Homo sapiens: one gene and its partners. The protein of the gene in region 5 interacts with the protein of the main gene of each other region in a biochemical or structural test. Each region holds a gene or a part of one and is shown on either strand. Other genes may lie near its edges. The genes, in order: PREX1, KCNJ18, GJA1, GUCY1A2, FRMPD4, SCN4A and RAPGEF6.

Region 1 (3,500 bases), on a different chromosome or scaffold from region 5:
AGGCTCTGAGGCCATGGCTGCAGGGCTCTGTGCTGGTCAGTGCATTCTGAAGGTCAATGGCAGCAACGTGATGAACGATGGTGCCCCTGAGGTCCTGGAGCACTTCCAGGCATTCCGGAGTCGGCGCGAAGAGGCCCTGGTAAGTTTACTGGAAACCGGGGCCGTCAAAGAAGTCCTGCTGAGTGGGGGTGGGTGGCTGAGGGCTGTCCTCTCTTTAGAGAAAAGCCTGCATGTACCACTGGTTGTGAGTAGGGTGGAGCTGCTGACCCAACAAGAGGGAGCTGGGCCTGAGCTTTGTGCTCCCGCTGCATCCTTAAACCAGAGTTGCTGAGCCATGATACCCGGGGGTCTCGGTTTTCACAGCTGTGAAATGGGTGTGACCAGACCCTCTCTCCTCACCACATAGGCATGTTGGGCACATAGTCAAGTGGGTTGGGAAAGTGGATACTCCATTTGGTTGGGGGCCAGGGTTCTGGTGGAGGGCGAGATTCCCTCATTGATTGATTCACTGGTTCACTCAGTGTGTGTGTGTTGGGCACCTGCTGTGCACCAGGCATGTTTGTAGACCCTGGGGACACAGGAGAGACGTGTCTGCACCCATGTCCCTGCCTCACATTTTCACATCCCCTGGCTTCTGTATGGAGCATAGACTGTGCACGGTGAGGGCTGAGTGTGACTGGTGGTCAGTGAGTTTCCAGAGCTCTGGAACCCAGGGGCAGTTCACACCTCGGCCCTGTCCCCTCCTCCCTACCTGCCGGCACCATGGCTGTCCCCTTACTCTGGCTTCTGGCAGGGCCTGTACCAGTGGATCTACCACACCCATGAGGATGCCCAGGAAGCACGAGCCAGTCAGGAGGCCTCCACTGAGGACCCCAGTGGCGAGCAGGCCCAGGAGGAAGACCAGGCTGATTCAGGTAATAGACGGGGCATGGCATGACAGGAGCTTCCAGAGGGACTGAGACTCCGGAGGGGCTGGGTCCTCTCCTGTTGTCCCCTCCCCTCCCCTCCTCCCAGCCAGTCCACCTCCATGCCAGCAGGTTTGTTTTTTTTTTCCTTTTTGGAGACAGGTTCTGGCTCTGTCACCCAGGCTGGAGTGTAGTGTTGTGACCACAGCTCACTGCAGCCCCAACCTCCCTGGTTCAAGTGATCCACCTCAGCCTCCGGAGTAGCCAGGATCACAAGCGTGTACCACCACACCTGGCTAATTTTTTAAATTTTAGAGTTTTTTTTTTAGAGATGAGGTCTCCCTATGTTGCCCAGGCTGGTCTCTTAACTCCTGGGCTGAAGCAATCTTCTTGCCTCGGCCTCGCAGAGTGCTGGGATTACAGGTGTGCACCACTGCGCACGGCCGCGATGCCCACGATGTTATGTCAGTTTCTGATGGCTGCTATAGCAAAGTGCCCCAAACCCAGCAGCTTAAACAACACACAGTTACTACTTAAATTTTGGAGGTCAGAAGTCCGAGTCCCACTGGGCTGAAATCATGGTGTCCACAGGGCTGTGGTCCTCCTTGGGCTCTCGGGGAGAATCTGTTTCCTTGCCCGTTTCAGCTCCCTGGTCCAAGCCACTATCATTTCTTACCAGGACGGTGGCAGTAGCCTGCTCATGGCTCTCCCTGTTCTGACTTCCTCTCCTCCAAGGGGCTATTCCCCCAGATGAGAAGAGAACCTTCCGATGGCTCCCTCTGTCCTCAGGGCCAGGCCTTGGATGGCTTGTGTGACCTTGTCCAGACTGGCTCTCCAACACCTTCCATCACTTCCCCACTCGCCTCTCTACTCTGGCGGAATGTACTCCTGCCCTGGGGCCTTTGCACTTGCTGTTCCCACTGCCTGGAAGGCTTCCTCCAGAATCCTCCTCGCCTCGCCTTCCTCCCTCCCTCTGATCTCTGCTCAGATGTCACCTCTTTTGGCTTCCAGCCTTCCCACTGCTGTCCCTGGGTCCCCGGCTGAGCCTGTGTGAGGACAGCCCCATGGTCACCCTGACTGTGGACAACGTGCACCTGGAACACGGCGTGGTGTATGAGTATGTGAGCACGGCAGGCGTCAGGTGCCATGTGCTGGAGAAGATCGTGGAGCCCCGCGGCTGCTTCGGCCTCACCGCCAAGGTCTCCTTGGGCACTGCCTGGCCCTGCCCTACCCTGGGGGATTGAAGCCAGTTTCTCTTATCAAAGGTTGGGAGAAGGAGTTGGGTGGGACACCCGAATCCCATTTCCTCAGGCTTAGCCTGGAGTCCTGAATTCTGGTCCTTGTCCCACCACTAGGTAGCGTGGGACTGTGCAGAGTGGCTTGTCCCTTTAGCCTCAGTTTACTCCCGTGCAATATGGGCCAGCAACACACCTGACTTCCCGGGGGGTATTACGAGTAGTACAGGAGTCACTGTGGGTGAACCGCTTAAAATCTTCCCGGCACACAGGGAATGCTCAGTAGCTGTTGACATTTCTGCAGATCCTCGAGGCCTTTGCTGCCAATGACAGCGTCTTCGTGGAGAACTGCAGGCGGCTCATGGCCCTGAGCAGCGCCATCGTGACCATGCCCCACTTTGAGTTCCGCAACATCTGTGACACCAAGCTGGAGAGCATTGGCCAGAGGATTGCCTGCTACCAGGAGGTGCCTGCGTGCTCCCTCCGGGGTCTCTGCCACAGGTCCCAGACATAGCATCTCAGCCTGGGATATTTGGGTTGTAAATTACAAAGCCCAACCCAACTCAGCTGAAACAAACAGGAGAATGTATGGTGTGTATTACTGAAAAGGACGGAGGTGAACTTATCACATCATAGCAGTGCGGCCTCTCCGCATCTCCTGGCTTCGTTTTCCTTAGCGCTGGGTTCACTCTCAGGCAAACCCTTCTCATGTGGTGGGGACACGTTGGCCCTTGATAGCTCTAGCCTCAGCAAGCCCAGGAGAAAATTAACTCCAAGGGAGTTCTGGTTGGCTTGGCTTAGGTCACTTGCCTCACCTGGTTCCAATCGCCATAGGGATGGAGAGGCACGTTGACCCTGAACCTCATGAACTGAGGGTGGGGCAGAGACAATGCCTCAAGGATGGTTCAGGGGCAGCCAAAATGGAGCCATGCATGGGGTGGGCACCCCGAGGCCTTGGGTTCCTCCAGGCCTTCCCTGCAGTCCTGAGCCGTGAAACACAGTCCAGGGGTTCCCCTTCTCATTTGGAGCTACTGGCATTTTGTCCAACTGTGGGGCATCTGGCCTAGGCCAGGATAAAGTGGGTACTGGGTATGGGCCAATATTTCCAGACCCTGCCCTGTGATTCACGACCTTACGGCCTCCACTTTCTCAGTTTGCAGCCCAACTGAAGAGCAGGGTCAGCCCACCCTTCAAACAAGCCCCCCTGGAGCCCCACCCGCTGTGTGGCCTGGACTTCTGCCCCACCAATTGCCACATCAACCTCATGGAAGTGTCCTACCCCAAGACCACCCCCTCAGTGGGCAGGTCCTTCAGCATCCGCTTTGGACGCAAACCCTCCCTCATCGGCCTTGACCCGGAG
Region 2 (3,948 bases), on a different chromosome or scaffold from region 5:
ATTAATATGACATCTGAGGCCCCCTGGGGTGATGCCTCAGCCTCTGTGCCTGCACACGCTGAGCTTCCCTGATATGATGGTGTCAAGGCTGTGCCCATCTCGTCACACCTTCCCCACAAACCCCGAATAGTTTAGATCCTGGAATGGAGGGCTGGCAGGGCTTCTGTGGAGTAGCTGGGCCAGCCCCCTGGTTTGCACACAGTCAGGGTGGGTCTTGCCCAAGGCCCAGTGCCTGGAGAGTGAAGCTGGAATCTGCACCAAGACTGCAGGACTCTGGTGCTCTTAGCTGTGTCACTGTGCTATGGTTAGTCTCAGGCGGGGTTGTCACCCCTGCTGCTCGCTGCTGCCTCCCCACTGGCAGATACTCCTCTAGGAAGCACCCCTCCTGCCACTGGGTTAGACACCTCCCCTGGGCTCCAGAGGGCCCAGCGACTTATGACTGCTGACTTCTCACCGTCTGCCCTGTGAGGCAGGGTGCCCCATGAAGGCAGGCGCCCAATGCTTCCTCTTCAAGTCCTCGGTGCCCAGTGAGGACTTGAAGAGGGAGACCCAGAGAGGGACAGAGCCCTGCTCCAGGTCACACAGCAAGTTGGGGCAGAGCCAGGAGTCCTAGAAGGGCCCCAAGACCCTCCAGGTCTCCCCTGTTCGTGGGACTTAATGGAGCCCAGGGATGGGGCAGTGTCTGTGATGGCCACCCCAGCAGAGGGCACTACTGCAGGGCCTCTGTTCTCTGCTTCTCCCAGGGGCCTGGGGCCAAGGACACCCTCTGTCCCTCCTGCCCCCACCCTCTGTGAAGAAGGATGTTCTCAAGATAAAAATACCGTCAGAAACATTCCCTGGTGTTTGGTGTGACTGTCGTCCACCCTGTGGGGCCAGAATCTTCTGACCTGGCCTCACCTCAGGGCTTAAGGGTGGACATTTGCCTTTTCTAGCCGCTTGGTGCAGCCTCTTTCTGGGGTCCATATGTCCAGCCCCCATCTTTACGCCACAGAATGTGAGGGGTCAGTGTCACTCAAGGTTCCTGCAGCTTCCACTTTCTGAGCATCCTCTGTGGGCTGGGCGCATCCCGAGCATGGAACAGCGAGGCAGATCCTGCCCTTGTGCGTTTTGTGGCTCCTTGCGGGCCAGGGGGGCTTCTGAGGACATCCAGCAGGCCACAGGGAGGCTTGGGCACAGTCAGCTTTCCGTCCTGTTGGGAAGCCTGTTTCTGCTTTCAGTGCCTACGTGGTGTCAGGAACGCCGGTCACAGTGAACGCCTGCAGGACCCACACTGCTGCATCGTCTCTGTGGGACAGATACTGAAGCCAGGGCTTGGCTTACCCTCGTGACAGTCTCCCGAGGTGTGTGGGGTCTCCTCATTTTGCAGATGGGGAGTTTCAGGCCCCAGTCAGCTGGGGGGCTGCCAGGCCTCTCCAGGGAGGGTGACGGCTGCCACCTCCCAGAGACCCGCTGGGGCGAGGCCCAGTGCCCGGACTGCAGCTTCGTCACCACCTTCAATTTCATGGCACACCCTCTGAGAGGCCTGGCAGGCGACACCAGCCTCATTTTTCAGGGGAAGCTGAGCCTCAGGAAGGGGAAGTGCCTTGCCCTGTTCCGTGGGGGATTTCAGCCCCATCCTCAGCCCAGGCCCTGCCCTCCCCTGCGGGACGCTGTGGGCCAGCCCGGCCTGTTGGCCCTCAGTCGTGGTCATGGGGAAGCACTGCCCCTGCAGCCCACCTCCCCATCCAGGATTGTGACCATAACCCCGGGAAGCATTTGTGGGACTTGGCGGGGTGAGCTCACATGGCGGCTGCTGTGGCCCCTGCAGGTGGCGGGAGCTCTGGCCAGGGCATCCGGAAGGCTGGCTCCTGTTTGCAGGGTGCTGCCCTGCCCTGTGACTTCAGGAAATTCGCTTCTCTGCTCTACGTCTCAGTACCCCTGTGTAGAGTAGAGCTAATTTTGCCTTCCTCCTAGATAAAAACAAATCCAGCTGGATTTGTGGTCTGGGGAATGCCCCTTTCAGGTAGTAGGGAGTGAGGGACGAGGTTGGGAGAGCCTGGTGCAAGCCAGGTGACCAGCAGGATGTGGATAGATGCTGCTGCCCACACTTCTGGCCCCCACCCCTGCTTGGCTCCCCATGGCCCTGTGGCAATATCCGACCTTCGCTGCTCAGAGTTCCAGCTCCAGGTGACTGTGCAGGTGACTTAGCTTCTCTCAGCCTCAGTTTTCCTATCTGTCCAGAGGGGAGAATTGTCCCTCCTCCAAGGCAGGGCTGTGAGCATCGGGATGACTGCAGCCAGCTGCCAAGCATGCAGGGCCAAGCACAGTGTTGGCTCACTCGGGGAAGGGGGTGGACCCAAGTCCCTGCCGTGGAGGTCCCCAGCTGTTTGATGTTGGCTTGTGACAGAACCTCTCTGAAACTCTGCAGCTCATCCACCTGTCCATCCATCCACCCGTCCATCCATCCACCCATCCATCTCTGAACCTCTGTGTCCCCATCAGTTTTGAGGATGGAATGGCTGAGAGAGGCAAAGTGTAGGCCTGTGGCTTCTGCTCCCAGAATGATGAGGGATGGGGAAGAAGGGGCTGGGGATTGGGGGACTTGGAGGGTGAAGAGGGACTGAAGGGCCACTAGAGACCAGGCAGGCCATCCCATTTCAGAACAAGCTGAGAGAGGGGAAGTGACTCACTCAAGGTCACACAGCTTATGAGGGGCAGAGCTGGGATTTGAATCTAGGTCTGTGTGCCTGTAAACCACTGTCACCTGTCCCAGGAGGCTGATGATGTGGGGGTGACTCACCAACAGTTGCCTTAATTCCAGCCAGAAAAACCAGTGTGACAAACCAGCCTCGGCTGTAACCTTGGAAAGGGCAGGCCCCATGAACTCCATGGCTGGGAGGTGCGGAGGTGAGAAGCATGTCAGGTGGCTCACCGTGGAGATCCTCAGAGCCCCTTCCCACCAACCTCTTCTCTGATTCTCACGGCACACTGGATAGGAAGGCAGGGGGATCCCTTTGACAGGTGGGGAAATTGCATCTTTGGGATTGCAGGGACCATGTAGGATGTATGTGTACCCAAGGCAAATCTCTGGCAAATTACTGATGTGTGCCCATCCATGTAGTTAGCCATGTGCCCACCTGCTCATCCATCTAGTCATCTATCCTACTTGCCCAAACACCCTATCCATCCATCTACCCACTCATCACCCACCCTCACACTCATCCACCCATCCATCTATCCATCTACCCACCCATCCATCCACCCATCCACCCATCCATCTATCCATCTACCCACCCATCCACCCACCCATCCATTCACCCATCTGTCCATCCATCCACCCTTCCATCCCTCTATCCATTCATTTCTTTACCCACCCATACACTCATCCACCTGTCCATCTATCCACCCATCCACTCATCCACTCATTCACTCCACCCATCCATCACCCAACATTCCATCCATCCATCCATCCATGCACCCGTCACCCATTCATCCATTAATCTGTTCATCCACCCACTCAACCATATACCCACCCATCCACCCAGCCATCCCTCTATCCATTCACTTCTTCACTCACCCATCCACTCATTCACTCACCCATCCATCCACCCAATCATCTGCCCATCCATCCATCCCATTCGTCTATCCATCCATCCACCCACCCATTACCCATCCATCCACCCATCCATCCATCCATCCACCCATTCACCCATCTATCCCTCCATTCATTCATCTACCCATCCGCTCAGTCACCCACCCATCTACCCTTCTGTTCATCCATCCATCCAATCATCTACTTTCACACTTATCCATCCATCTATCCAACCATCCATCCATCCATCCATTCATCCATCCATCCATCCATCCATCTTTCCATCCTATTATCCATTCATCCACTCATCCATTCACCCATTCATCCACTCATCCATCCTTCCTCCATACAGCCATCCACCCTCACACCCAACCACT
Region 3 (3,500 bases), on a different chromosome or scaffold from region 5:
TATCAAATTTCACTTTAGTTTTCAATAATCCTATTTACCTTTATTTAAGTCTCCATTCTCAACTCATTACATTTGTCTCTTCTTGAGAAAAATATTTAAAGTCGATAGTAAAATACTTAATTCTAATAACTATTAGTATATTAATGGCATGGAAAGACTTGACTGCAACTTCGGCACATGCTCTAGCAAAAGGCATAGTCAAATGTAATTTAAAATCAAAGCTTTATTTTTAAGAGATCTCATTTGAATTAAAGCGTTTAAGTTCTTCTGCTCTCAGGGAGCTGCAGATGGAGATGTAAGGAGTGACAAGGGGCTGTGGAGCCAAGGCTGACCTCAATGCCGGGTGCCCAGAGAGCTGCTGCTCCTGGTACTCAGCCCCTTGGATTTTTTAGACTGTTCCTTCTGCTTTCCTGACATTTCTCCCACTCCTAAATATTTTGAACAAGAAAGGGCCAGAAATGTCAAGAATAGTAACAAACACCAAAAAAACCTTACTTCCTAGGCCCCACCTCCAGAAATTCAGATTCATTCAGACTGGTGAAGACCAGGAATGTATGTTTTTAACAAATGCTGCCAAGTGACTGTGATGCAGTTCAGGAAAGGGGCCAGAGGAGCCTCAGGCTGGTCACACTTAGTGCCTGTAGCTTTGGGCATCCATCCAGTCTAGGGGGCCATGAAGAGCAATGGAAATGTAATCTAACATGGTGCATAGACGGCAAAAAGCGTGGTCCAGCTGCTAAGACTCTGCTCTTAACAAGAACTTTGCACAACTCCTCTTAGACAGACCTTGGTCTACATATAAAGCACCAACTCAGTATCCTAGAGGTGAAGGCATGAATATATGTGATATGTCCAGCTGCGTTGGTCTTCTCATGTATCAAATAAGAAATATACCTGTTTCCCCCTGGTGAATAAAAGTGCAGTTTATAGTCTGTAGATCAATGCCAGGGATTCTGTAAACATATAATTATGCCCTTTTATTATAAGAGGGTATTAACTTACCATACAAGACTTGGAAAAATGAAGATATTAAACTAGTTTGGGAAGGTGCAGCAGGGAGGAACAACCAGTTGCCAAAATTTGATTCATGGCAAAGTGAGCAACTACCAAAAAAAAAGGGAACAATTTTTGTTACCTGTTTTTGGGCAGCTGTCACATTAAACATTATTTGATGGTATCTATGATAGTGGAGATCGACAGGTAGCTACATGTTACAGGATACTCGGTGTCCAATTCGATAATTCGTATCTTATTAAGATGAAAGAGTATAACTCATTAATGCAAATGACAACTGCATGGGTGCTTAAAGAAAAGACAACTTTGCAATTAAGTTACTAGAGTATTAAAAAAGAACTAATGAAGAGCTGTCTGATGACTTAGTTCACATACTATGGAACTGTGGAGTGTTTTTGTAGAATCTCAAAATTATATGAAAGTCATGTATCATGAATTTTTTTATAGAATGTAAATAAAGACTATACTTTCAGGGATCATTTCTATAGTTTGTTACTAGAATGTAAATAAACTTAGTGATGAATTACTATAAGCATCTACACAATCATATTTTACTTTGAGTAATGATGAAATCCTAGCTAAAATAACTTCTGTTCTGCCTGGTCATATTTCTAGATATGATAGGTTTGTCTTCAGCTCTATCGTTGCATGAATGTGATGAGATGTATGCAAAGTTTATCTTTTTATACTTGATTGTTTTTGTTATTTTTCCCCTAGCAATTGAAATATGTGAGCAAAAGCAGATGACACTGGCAAAATACTGTAATTTTTTACAAACAGAATTAGGGCCAATTTTACACATCATCACATAGAAACTGTCTATTGATATAGCTCCAAAGATTCTGTTTGTCTGACCCTCATGGACTATACTTCTTCATTTCCAGTCTAGTATTTTCTGCTAAATTGTAGGGTTTTTTTTTCTTTCACATTCTCTCACCATCAAACTGTCCATCACGGCTAAATTACTCCCTCACTTCAAGCCTTTCCTTGGCTATTCAACTGTCTTTGTCAGCCTTTCAAGCCTTTGTTCTTATTTGACTGCTGTTTTAAATTGATGCTGTTTTCATACATCAATTTCACTTCCTAACTTGTCACTTCAGAATCTAAAATGACCCTTCCTAAGTAAAAGGGAAGCTCCCTTTCTTATGACCACTGGGGGAGTGTTATTTCTGTGGCCTTCACACCCACCTCCCACTCTTACTCAGCATTCTTTGGCACTAGTCCCTGGGCTGTCATCAAATGTACCCATGATACCGTGGTACCATCTAGCTGGTGCATAGTTTAGCTTTATGGCTCAGCCATCTCTTCTTTGTTCGGTCCAGGAAATCCCAGGTCAGGTGCCCATTTCATTTTTTCTTGTTCTCTATGGCCAGAAGATGCAGTCATTAGACAGAAATGTAATGTTGCTTACTGAGGAAGAAGACTCCCCTGGATTTCATTTACTTCCTACAAGGAGATACAGCTCAATAGTTCAACACCAGAAGAGAAACTCCTTTATATTCAGATAGTGAACATATTTCTAAGAAGCCTAAATAATCCTACCTTTAGATACTCTATTTAGAATTCATTACTAAGCTCCTGCAAAGTCTTAGCTTTGCTTGTTTTTAATTATTAAACAATCTTTGACTAATTTGTCCTTTTCTAAATCCTCCAATTACTACTATGTGCTGAAAATTAGCCTATATTCCCTATGCCTGCCACATCATGTTACTCACTTCTTCCCAGCTTTCAGCCCTGGCTAAGGTTGTGTATATCAAAGCCTGGAAACATTTCTAGCTTTAGCGCAGCCTTACTGTACTTTTAAAACCAGTGTGAGGCATTGAAAAGACTTGCCCGGGGATTGTGAATCTTCTTCTGGCTCTGTCTATAGCTAAATATTTCCTATACCCTGAGAACCTCTGAGAACCTCAATTTTTATCAGCTAAATGGATAATCGGCAATTAGAAGCATAAATTGAACTAGACAACTTTGGGGATTCTTGTTGGTTTCTACTGACTTACATCTTTTTAGTGAGACGGAGTCTCTCTTTGTCACCCAGGCTGGAGTGCAGTGGCGTGATCTCTGCAAGCTCCGCCTCCCGGGTTCAAGCGATTCTCTTGCCTTAGCCTCCCGAGTAGCTGGGACTACAGGCTCCCACCACCACACCTGGCTAATTTCTTGTATTTTTTGTAGAGACGGGGTTTCACCATGTTAGCCAGGATGGTCTGAATCTCCTGACCTCATGATCCACCCGCCTCCCAAAGTGCTTATAGGCGTGAGTGCATTATAGGCGTGAGCCACCACGCCTGGCCAGATCTTTTTCTTATCCTCAGTAATGGAGAAGGCGTGGACTTTAGATAGCTAGATATTGATAAGAAGTTAAATGGGATGTATAGCCTGAGGGTCCAAAGCCCAGTAAGGGAACTTTAAAGTATATAACAATGAAAGATGAAAACCAATCTTTTCTGGCTGGAGAAAACACCCTGAAGTAGGTTTTGTTTGTTTGT
Region 4 (3,500 bases), on a different chromosome or scaffold from region 5:
GGCAATGTGACATGAGTGGTGATATTTTTATCTTAATAAGTGACTTTCTCAACAAGTCTTGAGCATCCAATCCATGAAACCAAAATGAATATGAAATGCTTATTAATAAAGGGACTGTTTCTCACTTAGGTTTTCTACTCATTTTCCTATCACATTGATTTTAAGAAGTTCTTTGTCAAACTGACTTCTTGGCTACCAGAAGTTTTAGACTCTATAGTAAGCTCTTAAAGAATATTAGATGTGCTTTGACTATTTTAAAAACAATATTATTCACTCTGTTCATTTGCCTCACTTCTGGCTGGGAGGAACACTCAGGGAATGATAAAGGTAGGAAAGCAGCTAAGCTGTAGACAGCCTAGATTGCTCTGCACTCTAATGGGGCGCTAGCAAAGTGACCTTCTTTTCCCAGTCCTGCCTGATTTGCAGGACTTCAAATGAGATGATGGAAATGGGGCAAGAAAATATGAATATGTAAACTACATGTATTGATTTCAACCAATGTCAAAGGAGAAGCAATAGAGTTTAGGTAGAAGCTGTCTTTAATATGCAGGCCAAAATCTTTTGTATGTGTTATAGTCCTCTTTGGCACATAAATTCCCTCATTTTTCCTCATATCATCCTCAAGGGGGGGATCTTGTGATCACATGTGATCCTGCTTCTTATTACGATAGAATACATTGTGCACACTTATTTATTTTTCATTGTAATATCCAGCACTATAAGGTGGAACTCTTTTGCCAGGGCATCAGGGAGTGATTATATATGGAGAAAACTTAACAATAACCTTTAATTCTGTCTCATCAGATTCCTCCTCCATGCTTGGCTGCCCTTACTTTTGTGGGTGAAAGAATGTAAATCATTCCAGAGTTCTGTCATTATTATTTTCTTGTTTTTTCTCCTTTTCCCTGAGGTCTAGCTGACCTGCATGTCTTTCCCTGAGATTGCTAATGTAAGCCTTTTGTTTCCACCAGATAGCTTGATGCCTATCCCCATTCATGTGCCATAGATTTCTTTTCTGGTTTATATTTTCCACTTAATACATGCATTTCGATAAGAAGTAAGATGATAATATGGATGTAATATGGACATAATATGTAGGCAACTTGGATATTCTGTGAAGAATGGGGAAATCATTAAGAAAAAGAAAAATATATTATTTATGATAACTACTGCAAGGCTATTGAAAGGTGAACAGCTAGATTAGCAACATTTAAAAAGCTGATGCTCTGGGAGTTAGGGAGAAGGAAGGGATAAACAGGATTTTTAGGGCAGTGAAAATGCTCTAAGTGATATGATAAGTGTATACATATCATTATACATTTGTTTAAGCCCACAGAATATACAATATTAAGAGTGAGCCTTAATGTAAACCATGGAATTTGGATGATAATAATGCATCATGTAGGTTCATGGATTGTAATAAATGTACCACTCTGGTGGGAGATATGATAATGGGGCAGGCTGTGCATGTGTCGGGGCAGAGAGATATGGGAAATAACTGTGCCTTCTGCTCAATTTTGCTGTGACTCTAAAACTGGTCTAAAAATATGTAGTCTATTTAAAAACAAACAAAAAGGTTCATGTTCATTAACATTTTAGAGGCATCCTGAAGATGAACTGAAATTTATATTTTCTGATTCAAGATGAGTGAATTAACCTATGTGGAAATTTGTGGATCTAAGAGAAATAACCTTTGTTACTTTATTCAGTAGTTACTCTTTTGATAAGCACTTAAAAAGCTATAAATTCAATTATTTATATTAGACTTCACTAACATTTGCTTCCCATTTACCTCTAGGTTTGAAGTTTGAGGAAATTCAAAAAAGATTTGGTGAAGAGTTCTTTAATATATGCTTTCATGAGAATGAGAGAGTCCTTCGAGCTGTAGGTGGCACTTTGCAGGACTTTTTTAACGGCTTTGATGCTTTGTTGGAACACATTAGAACTTCTTTTGGAAAACAGGCCACTCTGGAGTCACCATCTTTCCTATGCAAAGAGCTCCCTGAAGGTACTCTCATGCTCCACTACTTCCACCCTCACCATATTGTGGGGTTTGCAATGCTGGGGATGATTAAGGCTGCAGGAAAGAAGATCTATCGGCTGGATGTGGAAGTGGAACAGGTTGCAAATGAGAAGCTATGCTCTGATGTTTCAAACCCAGGCAATTGTAGCTGTCTTACTTTCCTTATCAAAGAATGTGAAAATACTAATATCATGAAGAACCTTCCACAGGGAACCTCCCAAGTTCCTGCGGACCTCAGAATTAGCATCAACACCTTCTGTAGAGCCTTCCCTTTCCACTTGATGTTTGATCCCAGCATGTCAGTCCTTCAGTTGGGGGAAGGTCTAAGGAAGCAGCTTCGATGTGACACTCACAAAGTGCTCAAGTTTGAGGACTGCTTCGAGATTGTATCTCCAAAGGTTAATGCCACCTTTGAAAGGGTCCTGCTGCGACTGTCTACCCCGTTTGTGATTAGAACCAAGCCTGAGGCTTCTGGCTCTGAAAATAAAGACAAGGTAAGTGCTATGGACTTGAGATGGTGATGGGAACTAGAAGAGTGGATAATTATTTCAGTAAATTACATGGTGGCTGTACTTGTAATTATTTAGGCAAGAGAGCTTAAAGTGCCATTTAGAAGATTACTGGTCCCTGGATGTATGTAAAAAGATTTGGCCTCATTCCCAGCCATTTTGCATAGTGTCTGCCTCCTCCATTAATTTATTTCAGCATATAAAAAGAAGACATTTATTAATACTAGCTATAGCAATTACAAAAATGATAGAACTCACTAAAAACCTGATAATATAAACACATGAATATTTCCACTGAATGTAGTCAAACTATGAGAAATATAGCATTTCAATATTGTGGGGCGTGACTGCAATATCTTTAAATACATATGCTAAAAGTTACCTTCACTTTGAATATGTTCTTTTCTAAATTTCATAATCTGGGAACATCTGGTTTACATCCTATTTTTGTCTTAATATGCAGAATAATGTATTCCCCAAAAGCTGAGAATTGACTATCTCGAGACTTCTGTTTAAATTTTAGTATTAAAATAGAGATTCATTGCTTTAGAACATGATCTCTAGTTGAGAGAATAAAGTGAAGACTAGGAAATTTTTTGTGGATTTCTTTGAATCCCCTTTGGGAAATCTGGATTATAAATTATAAATAATTGATGAAAAGACACCAGAAATAAATCTTAAAATATTTGGGTTTAAATGAACATTTTGTCCCTCAGGTAAAATATTTTAAAAAGTCAACATTAAAATAGATAATAAAATGTAAAGAAAAATAAACCATGATTTTTTATGTTTAGTAATATGCTTTCAGTGATTAAACGGAAAAACAACATTAATTTCCAGGACAGAAATTTGTATAGTTCCATTCAGTTTCCAGTAGAGTGTCTTTTCAACATTTTGTACTAGGGTAAATAAAGTTCTTTTAGGCTATTTAGCCTGTTTCCAAGCATTTGAGGGAAGCTATTAGCTAT
Region 5 (2,551 bases):
GACAATGGTTATCTTTGGAAGTTGGGTTTAAGGGGATTATTACTTTCTCCATCATTTATTTCTGTAATGTTTATTTGATAATATTAAGGAATTCCCAATTTTTAAAATGCAAAAACGTCATTGTGGTTATGTTTAAAAGTTCTCACAGGATATTCTTACTGAAATATTCATGGGCTAAGCACTATGATGTCTGGGACTTGCTTGTAAATCATACAGTGGGAGAGGAGGTGGGTAGAAATACAGAAAATAAGATTAGACATGAATCGGTAGGTAATGAGTCCACATGAATTCATACGATTGTGTCTACTTTTGTTTGAAAGATTTGTGATAAAAGATTAATAAAAATGGTAGGAGATAAACTTGGCAAAGTAGACTGGGGACTAAACATAAAGAACCGTGAGTATAAGGAAGGTTTATTCTCCAGTTCAGTGCTCTCCAGATTTCAGTGAATGCAACCCTACCTGCGACAATATTGTCACATGCATGCACCAGGCATATGCTTATTTATTCATTCATTCATTTATTTATTTAAAATTATGTACATGTACCATTGTACTATTATGCCATTATAAAACATACACAAACATAAAAAAGCTAGATAAAAATAAGCACAAGTATTGTTCTAATATGTTCTTCCTACACTCTATGGACCTGGACCCCAGTTAGGAGCCCCATGCTTAGTGAATGTGGGGGCCCCTTGAGGTTTTCTGAATAGCAAAGAGTTTATTTATAAGAAACAGAAACTTACTGGCGCAGTAATGGGAGGTTGATTAGAAGGACCCAGAGCTACTTCCCTGAGGCTTCTCAAAGAACTCCAATGGACTGGGAAGTTGTTCTAACTAGATACGTAACTTGAACAAGGATGGCCACTTCCTTGTACACTTCTTTTACATATATGCAATACACATAATGTGTTCTGCACACAGTCAGGATACAATATGCATATAAAACAAACATTCCCCCACATATTATCTTGGGCAATATATTTAACACAACGATTATGATGATAATAATAGCTAACATTAATTGAATACTTACTCTCTGCCAGGTATTGTGGTAAGAACTTTACATACACATTTTTACTCAAAACTCATGACAACCCTATGGAAATCGATCTTATAATTGATTTTCATTTTATTATGAGGAAATTGAGACTAGAAAAAGTAGCTTTCCCAACATAAAAGGGCTAGAAAATGGCAGAGTCAAAATTTTAATCAAGATGTTTCTGACCCCAAACCCCATATCCGTAAGAACTCATCCATATTGCCTCCAGAGAGAATAGTGTCCAAACCAGCAGATTGTTGTGATGATTAAATGAGATAATATAGTTAATATGCTTAGCACACTGTCTGACATAGGGCACACATCCTATTAATAGGTTAGGATTTTAGTACACAGAATGATATTTACTAAGATTTTCCACAGTAAACACCACTAATATCTCTCAATATCAAAACACCAATATTTATAATTATAATTGTAATGAAATAATGTTTTATTATTTAGTTAAACATTATTTATAATAACACACACCTAAACTCCTTTCCTTTGCTGCCATCCATAACCACGTGCGGCTTTTGTTGTTGAGTCCCTGTGGAATGGCTGACTAGAGAGAGATTGCAATTGTGGACTGTGTTATGACTCCTTCTCAGCAGGCTACAAAAGTAGAAATATTTGCACCTGGTGTACTCCCATCATGTTCTTAAGGAGCCACCTGTCTAAGTAGGAGTGCATGTAACTTGAGCACTGAATGACCCAGGAAATACATATATACATATCGATTTTATTTTATGACTGCAGGGTACTTTTAGAGATGTGACAGTCCTGGAAAGTTCTTTGCATTCCATTGGTTTCACTTGAACTGGTCAAATATACCACTTCCATTTCTTTCTTTTTTTTTTCAGATTTCATATTTTTATCAGCCAATCCAGATTAAGTATTTATTTAATAAATACTTAACTATTTACTCATGGCTCCCATGATTACAGTAGCCATCTCTCCCTGATTTTCTGGAACATCCAAGATTTGAGATTTTGTCCCAGTACTACGCTATAATTCCAAATTTGACTGGCAGCCTTAGCCTCTGTAGAGGCGGTGATGCATGAAGCCCTATGCTGAGAGCTGTGATCTGAGATGAGACTCACAGGTGCTGGTGTGTGGTCTGGTCTACATTACTGAATCTGTACTTAATTTTGATGATCATTAAATGTTCCTTTTTTTAAGTTTGCAAATACTTTACTAAATGTCCTATCACTCTAAAGGGAATTTTAAGTTTCGTAGTTGAGTTGGGATGAGGGGAAGATAATGTCTTTGGTTTGCAGATTTTTGACATTTAGTCAAAGCAGATCTTTCCATCAAATAATTAATTTTGGTATTATTAATTCCATACATTTTATGTAATGAGATATTCTATAACTCTAGGTGTTACCTAGGAAACTGCCCATCATCCCCTCTGTTCTTCTCCCCGGGAAGTTTTTTAAATGCTAGAACCACTGTGAAGAGCATTTGTGCTGACACAGTAGAATCCATCCCCACCAATTTGTAGCCCCAG
Region 6 (3,500 bases), on a different chromosome or scaffold from region 5:
AGAGATCTGCAAAGTCCTGCAGGGCCCCCAACTCCCTGGCACAAGGCAAGCCGACCTGGGGAGGGAACCACATCTCTGTGTGTCAGAATTCCTTTTCTCTATTGTCCCTTTTTCCTGTGCTTCCTCCTTCCCTCCTGCCTCCCTACTTCCCTCCCTCTCATCCATCCATCCATCCATCCATCCGTCCGTCCATCCATCTGTCCATCCATCTGTCGTGTCGTGTCTATTCACCCTCTCTCATCATGACATCCTTATTCTTCTGAGATTCAGCATGTGGCACAGGGATTGGGGAGTCTGTCACTCTGTTTGGGCAGAATTTGACTTTTGGCCTTTAACTTTTACCCAGAGAACACTTGAGGAGCAGGATGTCCAGTTTCCGGAACATTGGGCCTTCTGGTTAGTATTATTAGCCTGTGCTTCCCATTGGGCAGTCCCCAAGGCCCTCCCGGAAGCCCCCAGTTCCCATAGCAGCCTGGCCTTGCAGCTAGAACTGGGCCAGGTTAAGACAGGACTATATTTGTGACAGCCAGAAATGGCTGTGATAAATATAGTATAAATATAGCCATTTCTTCTATGCCAATATTAAGTTACTGTCCTGAAGCTGGTCCAGCCAGGCCCCACCCTGACCTCAGGGGCCTGAATGGGTAGAGGGGGCACAGGGCACTCACCTTCCATGGCATCCCTATCCTCCTGAATCCAGTCCAGCCAGGCTCCACCCCTACCTAAGTGGGCACGGGGGCACAAGGCACTCACCTTCCATGGCGTCGGAGATGCCGCTGTCTCCGCTGCTGCTCTGCCTCGGGGCTCCCTTCTCCCCTTGCGATGTGTCCAGGCTGCCATTGCAGTCTTTGCCATGGGCTGGGTCCCCATCTGCCTCCCCACCTTCCAGAGCTTGGGCGGCCTTGGCCTGTAGACCAGCAAGAGTGACTGGCAGGAAGTCCAGCTCTGAGCCAGAGGGATGGACTAATTGACCCTCAGAGCTTCTTCCAGAGTCCTTCAGGGTGGCAGCCCCTCTTCCTGGCCTGTGTCAAACTTAGTGCAGGTGGGGGAGGGACCAACCTCCATGGTGGTGGGGGTGACAGGGTAGGGACCAAAGTGACTAAAGACCCTCTGCCCTGAAGACCCTTGACTCTGATGCCCTGACTAACCCTCCACTTGTTGACAGAATGAGAAACTGGTCAGCCGCTCCCTGTGGCCTCATCAGGACCTGCCCTTCCCTCAGTATGGACCTATCCACTACCCAGAAAGCATCACAAAATCAGAAATATTTGAGCTGGAAGAATACTTCAGGTTTAGCTACTCCAGATTCCTTGTTATAGACAGGGAAACTGAGGCACAGAGCAGAGAAATGCTTTTTCTACTGCTTGGATCCCTCCATCCCCCTGCCACCAGCAAAGCTCCCAGCCCAGGGCCTTCTGCTCCTTCTGCCTCAAAACCCCTACCCCTGTACCCTCCCTCACCCTCGGCCCCCCAGGGAGAAGCCAGTGGCAGCCCCGGCTGAGGGCAGGTAGAACCCTGGGTCCTCTATCTCCTTTCCCTGAGTCCAGACCTTCTCCAGCTCCTCCTGGTGCTTTTTGAACTTCTCAAGCATCTGCTGAAACTCCTCCTCTTTCTCCTTATCCTCGGCCAGGGTGGCCTCATTCTGCTCGGCATATGCCATGGCCACCACGGCCAGGATCAGATTGATGAGGTAGAAAGAGCCCAGGAAGATGATGACCACGAAGAAGATCATGTAGGTCTTGCCAGCTGCTCGAAGGGTCTGGGAGTGGAGGGAGAGGGAGTGGAGGGGTCCCATGACGTCCACCTCCTTTGACCCAGTGCCCCTTTCCATACATCCATTGCCCGCATGGGTAAGCAGAGCCCCTCCCTCACAGAGCCTGGGGGACTGATGGCCGTCATTGGCATGCTGAGCCATGTTCTGGGGAACTTCAAAATATCTACTTGGGACTCAAACGTTTCTGGTCTCCTGGCTCAGAGGAGGACCGAAGCCAGGCATCCTGTTATCAGAGAGCCAGGATAGAAAATTGGTGAACATGGGTTTGGGGTCAGCTTGAATTCTAGCTTTGCCACAGTGCCTGGCACCTAGTAAGAACTCAACAAATAGTAGCTATTATTATTATTTAATCAATTTATTTATTTATTTTTAGACGTAGTCTCACTCTGTTGCCCAGGCTGGAGTGCAGCGGTGTGATCTCGGCTCACTGCAACCTCCACCTCCCAGGTTGAAGTGATTCTCCTTCCTCAGTCTCCTGAGTAGCTGGGATTACAGGTGTTTGCCACCAAACCTGGCTAATTTTTGTATTTTTTGTAGAGATGGGTTTCGCCATGCTGGCCAGGCTGGTCTCAAACTTCTGACCTCAAGTGATCTGCCTGCCTCGGCCTCCCATAGTGCTAGGATTATAGGCATGAGCCACTGCACCCAGCCAGTAGCTGTTATTATTTTTGTTATTGTTATCAACACCATCAATGTTAGAAACATCACATGGCATCAGAAGGCACTGTCACTCCAGGCTCAGCCTGCCTTCCCTGCAAACAGTAGAAGGCAAATAAAGTATGGGCAACATCGAATTTCTGTCTTTCTTTTTTTTCAGACGGAGTCTCGCTCTGTCGCCCAGGCTGGAGTGCAATGGCGTGGTCTCGGCTCACTGCCACCTCCGCCTCCCGGGTTCAAGCAATTCTCCCTCCTCAGCCTCCTGAGTAGCTGGGAATATAGGCCCGTGCCACCATACCCGGCTAATTTTTGTATTTTTAGTAGAGATGGGGTTTCACTATGTTGGCCAGGCTGGTCTCGAACTCCTGACCTCGTGATCCGCCCACCTCTGCCTCCCAAAGTGCTGGGATTTCAGGCGTGAGCCACCGCGCCCGGCAGGCAGCATTGGATTTCTAAGCTGCCCTACTGGCTATCATGAGGCCTAGGGGGTCCTGGGCTTGTGCCTATGCTAGGTCCAGACCTTGGCTCTGAAAGCAAAGGTGTGGAAAGAATTAAAGCTGTGGCTTGGCTCGGGGCAGGTGTCTAGTTTCAGAGAGCACAAGCTCCTATAAGGGCACTGCGGGAGTCCATGAGGAGATGGCCCAGTTCGGGGGTTGGCCATCCTGTGGTAGGCCCCATCAGGCCCTGAAGAGGCTGCAGGGATGGAGGGGGAGTGGCTGTAGGGTTGGGGGGCAGGGTGGGGGCAGCTGTACCAGCTGGAAGAGGTTCTCCCAATAGTCCTGTGTCATGAGGCGGAAGAGAGCCAAGAAGGCCCAGCTGAAGGTGTCATAGCTGGTGTAGCCATAGTTGGGGTTCCGCCCGGTCTTGATGCACTCATAACCCTCAGGGCAGTGCCTAGGAATAGGACAGGGGGCTGGGTTTAGGGTGGGAGGAGCACTCCAGCTGGGGGCAGATAGGGACCCCAAGGGAAAAATTCCGTCAGTTCTGCCTGTGTCCCCCAAACAGAAAAGTATTCCATCCATGCCCACAGGTTTCCCTGCACTCCCATGCCCCCCAGGTCCTCATCTCT
Region 7 (3,500 bases), on a different chromosome or scaffold from region 5:
TGAATAGAGATTAACAGAGTGGTCTTTAGAATCAGCTGCACCTGTATTTGAATCCTGCCTCTCCCATATAGTAGCAATGTGTCAGTGGAAAACTGAAGATAGGTTTTCTTATCTGTAAAATACCACCTATATCACAGTTTTTAAACAGCTAAGTCTAAAACAGAGGAATAAAGATGCCACTGATAAACACTTGGAAGGCTAGAAATGGAACCTGTTTGTAAAGGAAGCATCAAGTAAAGAATTTGAAAATTACGGGCTCAGTTTTAGAGTCCACTATGAAGAAAATTGATTGACACTGAGAGAATAGATCTCTGTATAAAAAAGAGGGTAGAAAGAAAGTGGTAGAGGTCTAAAAACCATACCTTAGTATGATGACTCAGTGTGAGGGTAAGGAAAAAGAGTCTAGCCAAAGAGATGGAGGATCAGTACAAGAAACAGAGTAGCACAGTTATGATAGTGTCATCAAAGCCAATGAAAGAGAGTGATTTGAGAGAAGATGTGATGGACAGTAGCCCAAAGAAGGGAGTGGATAGGAAAGGGCTGAGATTTGGTTAAGAGGCTTTGTTTGGTTAAAAGATTTGTTTTGTTACAAAGAATATTTGTTCTGCACATTTTCATAGCTCATGTAAAGATCATTGCTTTGTTTCTTTTGTATTCTTTTTAAGATAATTGTTTTGTATTCTTGTACTTCATGTTCAGGTAGATCAAAGAATATACTCTTTTCAGCAGAGATGGCAAAGGTGAATCATTCTGTTCTGGCTATAATTAACAACTTTTTATAATTATAAAATAATTTTAACTTTTTGAATAGACATGACATGTACATGGAAAAAATTTTAAAGATAAAGAGTACACAGCGAAAGTAACTTTGTCTCACCCAGTCCCTAATCCACCCAAATTCCTCTCCCCAGAGATACTGTTACCTTTTTTCATTCAAGAAATACTCTATCCATATAGCAAGCATATAAATATATATTTAAAACCACCTTGGCTAATTTTTTTAATTTATCTTGGAGATTATTTAAAATCAGTTCTTATAAAGTTGTCTCATATTTTTTAAACAACTATGAAGTACTCCTTTGTATTGTGGAGTGCACATTATGGATATTTCTAAATTTCCAGACTTTGGCTATTTAAAACAGTGTGTGGTGTTTACTTTTGCCATGTAGAAATTTTTTTATTTTTATGTAGATGTATTATTTTTTTTCCTGCTGGAGTTTCTGCATTTTGTGGTTAGTTAAGAACAAAGAATTGCCTAGGTTTGAATCCAGTGTTGGCACTTGTTGTCTATGTGAACTAAGTTTCCTCATTTGTCAAATGGGAAATCCTGGTAGTTCCTACCTAATAAGGTTAAGAGTATTCAATGAGCTAATACAATGAGAGCTCTTAGAACACCCTAGACAACATTTTTTATTAATCTTGAATTCATTTTTATGTAAACAGTGAGATAAAGAAATATATCTTTCTTTGTTCCAAATGACTTCTTCACCCAACATCATTAATCAATCTTTTTTTCTAAAATATGCAATGCCATCTATTATGTACTGAAATCTAACACATATTTGGGTTTATGTCTGCACTCATTGCTTCATTGATTTGTCTATTCATTTACTGTTTTAGTTGCTGAAGTGGTAAAATAGGTTTTAAGGTCTGATAGGGCTAGTCAAACCCCTTATGACTCTCTTCATACTTTTCTTTGGCTATTTCTGGCATGTTTATTTGTTTCATATCAACTTTAGAATCAATTTATGTAGTTCTTTTAAAAAGTTTTGTTGATGTCTGGGCGCGGTGGCTCACGCCTGTGATCCTGGCACTTTGGAGGCCAATGCAGGTGGATCACAAGTTCAGGAGTTCTAGACCAGCCTGACCAACATGGTGAAACCCCATCTCTACTAAAAATACAAAAAAATTAGCCAGGTATGGTGGCACATGCTTGTAATCCCAGCTACTCAGGAGGCTGAGGCAGGAGAATCACTTGAACCCAGGAGGTGGAGGTTGCAGTAAGCCAAGATCATGCCACTGCACTCCAGCCTGGGTGACAGAGCAAGACTCTGTCTCAAAAAAGAAAAGAAAAAGTTCTGTTGATGTTTTCATTGAGATTACATTAAATACCTAGATTACTTTAGTGGACATTTGATAGCTTTGTAACAATGGCTCTTGCCATCCAAGAACACTTATTCCACTTGTTTCAGTTTTCTTTTATTTCCTCTGTGGAGTTGTTTTATTAGTCTGTTTTCACACTGCTGTATAGAAATACCTGAGACTGTGTAATTTATAAAGAAAAGAGGTTTAATTAACTCACAGTTCCCCATGTCTGGGGAGGCCTTAGGAAACTTACTATCATAGTGGAAGGCGAAGGGCAAACATGGCGTGTCTTACATGGCAGCAGAGAGAGAGAGAGTGAGGGGGGAAGTGCCACACTTTTAAACCATCAGATCTCTTGAGAACTCACTGATTATCATGAGAACAGCGTAGGGGAAATCTGCCTCCATGACCCAGTCACCTCCCACTGCGTCCTTCCCCTGACATGTGGGGATTACAATTCCACGTGAAATTTGGGTGGGGACACAGAACCAAACCATATCAGTTTTTATAGTGGTGTTCATGTAAATCTTGAACATTTGTTTGAATGTTTAATATCTTTTATTGCTGTTGTGAATGGGATCCTTATATTATGAATGGGATCCTTAAGTTTTCTAATGGTTTCTGCCTAAGTATTCTAATGCATATGAATATCAGTGTTGTACCTAGTACCTTACTGCATTCTTCATGCTTCTAATAATTTTCAGTTAATATTTTGGGAGTTTTGAGTTAAACAATCTAATTTTCTTCAACTGATGATAACTTTACATCTCTCATTCCATTTATTAATAACTATTTCTCTATTTTGTCTATTTTCATCTGCTGGTGCTTCATATTAAATGATACCATTGTCCCTCAGTATCTGTGGGGCATTCGTTCCATGGCTCCTCACAGATAGCAAAATCCTCACATACTCAAGTCCTGCAGTTGACCCTGAGGAACTTGTGGATACATAAAGTCAGCATTAGCAGGTTTCACATCCAAGGAAACTGTATTTTTGATCCACATTTGGTTGTGAATGTGGAACACTCAGATACGGAGGGGTGACTGAATTTATTGAAAAAAATCTGCATATAAGTGGATCCATGCAGCAGTATTCCACGGTAGCAGGAGTTAGCCTTGTATGTGAATTGTTTTATCCTTTACTTTTTCTTAGTAAATGGAGATTGTGGCAGCATTAGGGCTGCTTACAACTCAGAGTGTCTCCCTTCTCTCCTGTCTCAAACAGATTTGTACCAAAGTGTATCACTGTGTGCTATGCCAAATAAAGGATTGTTGGCTTGGCATGGTGGCTCATGCCTGTAATCTCAGCACTTTGGGAAGCCAAGGCAGGCAGATTACTTGAGCTCAGGAATTCAAGACCAGCCTGGCCAACATGGTGAAACCCTGTCTGTACTAAAAATATAAAAATTAGCCAG

What was found.
Region 1: the proteins of FRMPD4 (region 5) and PREX1 interact in a test that uses a peptide from one of them, tested with the Homo sapiens proteins (one large-scale study listed by IntAct).
Region 2: the proteins of FRMPD4 (region 5) and KCNJ18 interact in a test that uses a peptide from one of them, tested with the Homo sapiens proteins (one large-scale study listed by IntAct).
Region 3: the proteins of FRMPD4 (region 5) and GJA1 interact in a test that uses a peptide from one of them, tested with the Homo sapiens proteins (one large-scale study listed by IntAct).
Region 4: the proteins of FRMPD4 (region 5) and GUCY1A2 interact in a test that uses a peptide from one of them, tested with the Homo sapiens proteins (one large-scale study listed by IntAct).
Region 6: the proteins of FRMPD4 (region 5) and SCN4A interact in a test that uses a peptide from one of them, tested with the Homo sapiens proteins (one large-scale study listed by IntAct).
Region 7: the proteins of FRMPD4 (region 5) and RAPGEF6 interact in a test that uses a peptide from one of them, tested with the Homo sapiens proteins (one large-scale study listed by IntAct).

The regions. Positions count from the first base shown.
Region 1 is NC_000020.11:48,650,000-48,653,499, reverse strand, and holds part of PREX1 (phosphatidylinositol 3,4,5-trisphosphate-dependent Rac exchanger 1 protein), read left to right. Parts: intron 1-2; coding exon 3-139; intron 140-793; coding exon 794-914; intron 915-1,916; coding exon 1,917-2,104; intron 2,105-2,444; coding exon 2,445-2,606; intron 2,607-3,293; coding exon 3,294-3,500.
Region 2 is NC_000017.11:21,691,375-21,695,322, forward strand, and holds the start of KCNJ18 (inward rectifier potassium channel 18), read left to right. Parts: upstream 1-1,148; 5' UTR 1,149-1,340; intron 1,341-3,948. UniProt on the Homo sapiens protein: Inward rectifier potassium channels are characterized by a greater tendency to allow potassium to flow into the cell rather than out of it.
Region 3 is NC_000006.12:121,442,146-121,445,645, forward strand, and holds part of GJA1 (gap junction alpha-1 protein), read left to right. Parts: intron 1-1,471; exon of another isoform or gene 1,472-1,548; intron 1,549-3,500. UniProt on the Homo sapiens protein: Gap junction protein that acts as a regulator of bladder capacity. A gap junction consists of a cluster of closely packed pairs of transmembrane channels, the connexons, through which materials of low MW diffuse from one cell to a neighboring cell.
Region 4 is NC_000011.10:106,938,477-106,941,976, reverse strand, and holds part of GUCY1A2 (guanylate cyclase soluble subunit alpha-2), read left to right. Parts: intron 1-1,798; coding exon 1,799-2,517; intron 2,518-3,500. UniProt on the Homo sapiens protein: Has guanylyl cyclase on binding to the beta-1 subunit. Isoform 2 acts as a negative regulator of guanylyl cyclase activity as it forms non-functional heterodimers with the beta subunits.
Region 5 is NC_000023.11:12,722,473-12,725,023, reverse strand, and holds the end of FRMPD4 (FERM and PDZ domain-containing protein 4), read right to left. Parts: 3' UTR 501-2,551; downstream 1-500. UniProt on the Homo sapiens protein: Positive regulator of dendritic spine morphogenesis and density. Required for the maintenance of excitatory synaptic transmission. Binds phosphatidylinositol 4,5-bisphosphate.
Region 6 is NC_000017.11:63,962,919-63,966,418, forward strand, and holds part of SCN4A (sodium channel protein type 4 subunit alpha), read right to left. Parts: intron 3,326-3,500; coding exon 3,184-3,325; intron 1,760-3,183; coding exon 1,550-1,759; intron 1,291-1,549; exon of another isoform or gene 1,166-1,290; intron 908-1,165; coding exon 754-907; intron 397-753; exon of another isoform or gene 347-396; intron 1-346. UniProt on the Homo sapiens protein: Pore-forming subunit of Nav1.4, a voltage-gated sodium (Nav) channel that directly mediates the depolarizing phase of action potentials in excitable membranes.
Region 7 is NC_000005.10:131,457,230-131,460,729, reverse strand, and holds part of RAPGEF6 (rap guanine nucleotide exchange factor 6), read left to right. Parts: intron 1-3,500. UniProt on the Homo sapiens protein: Guanine nucleotide exchange factor (GEF) for Rap1A, Rap2A and M-Ras GTPases. Does not interact with cAMP.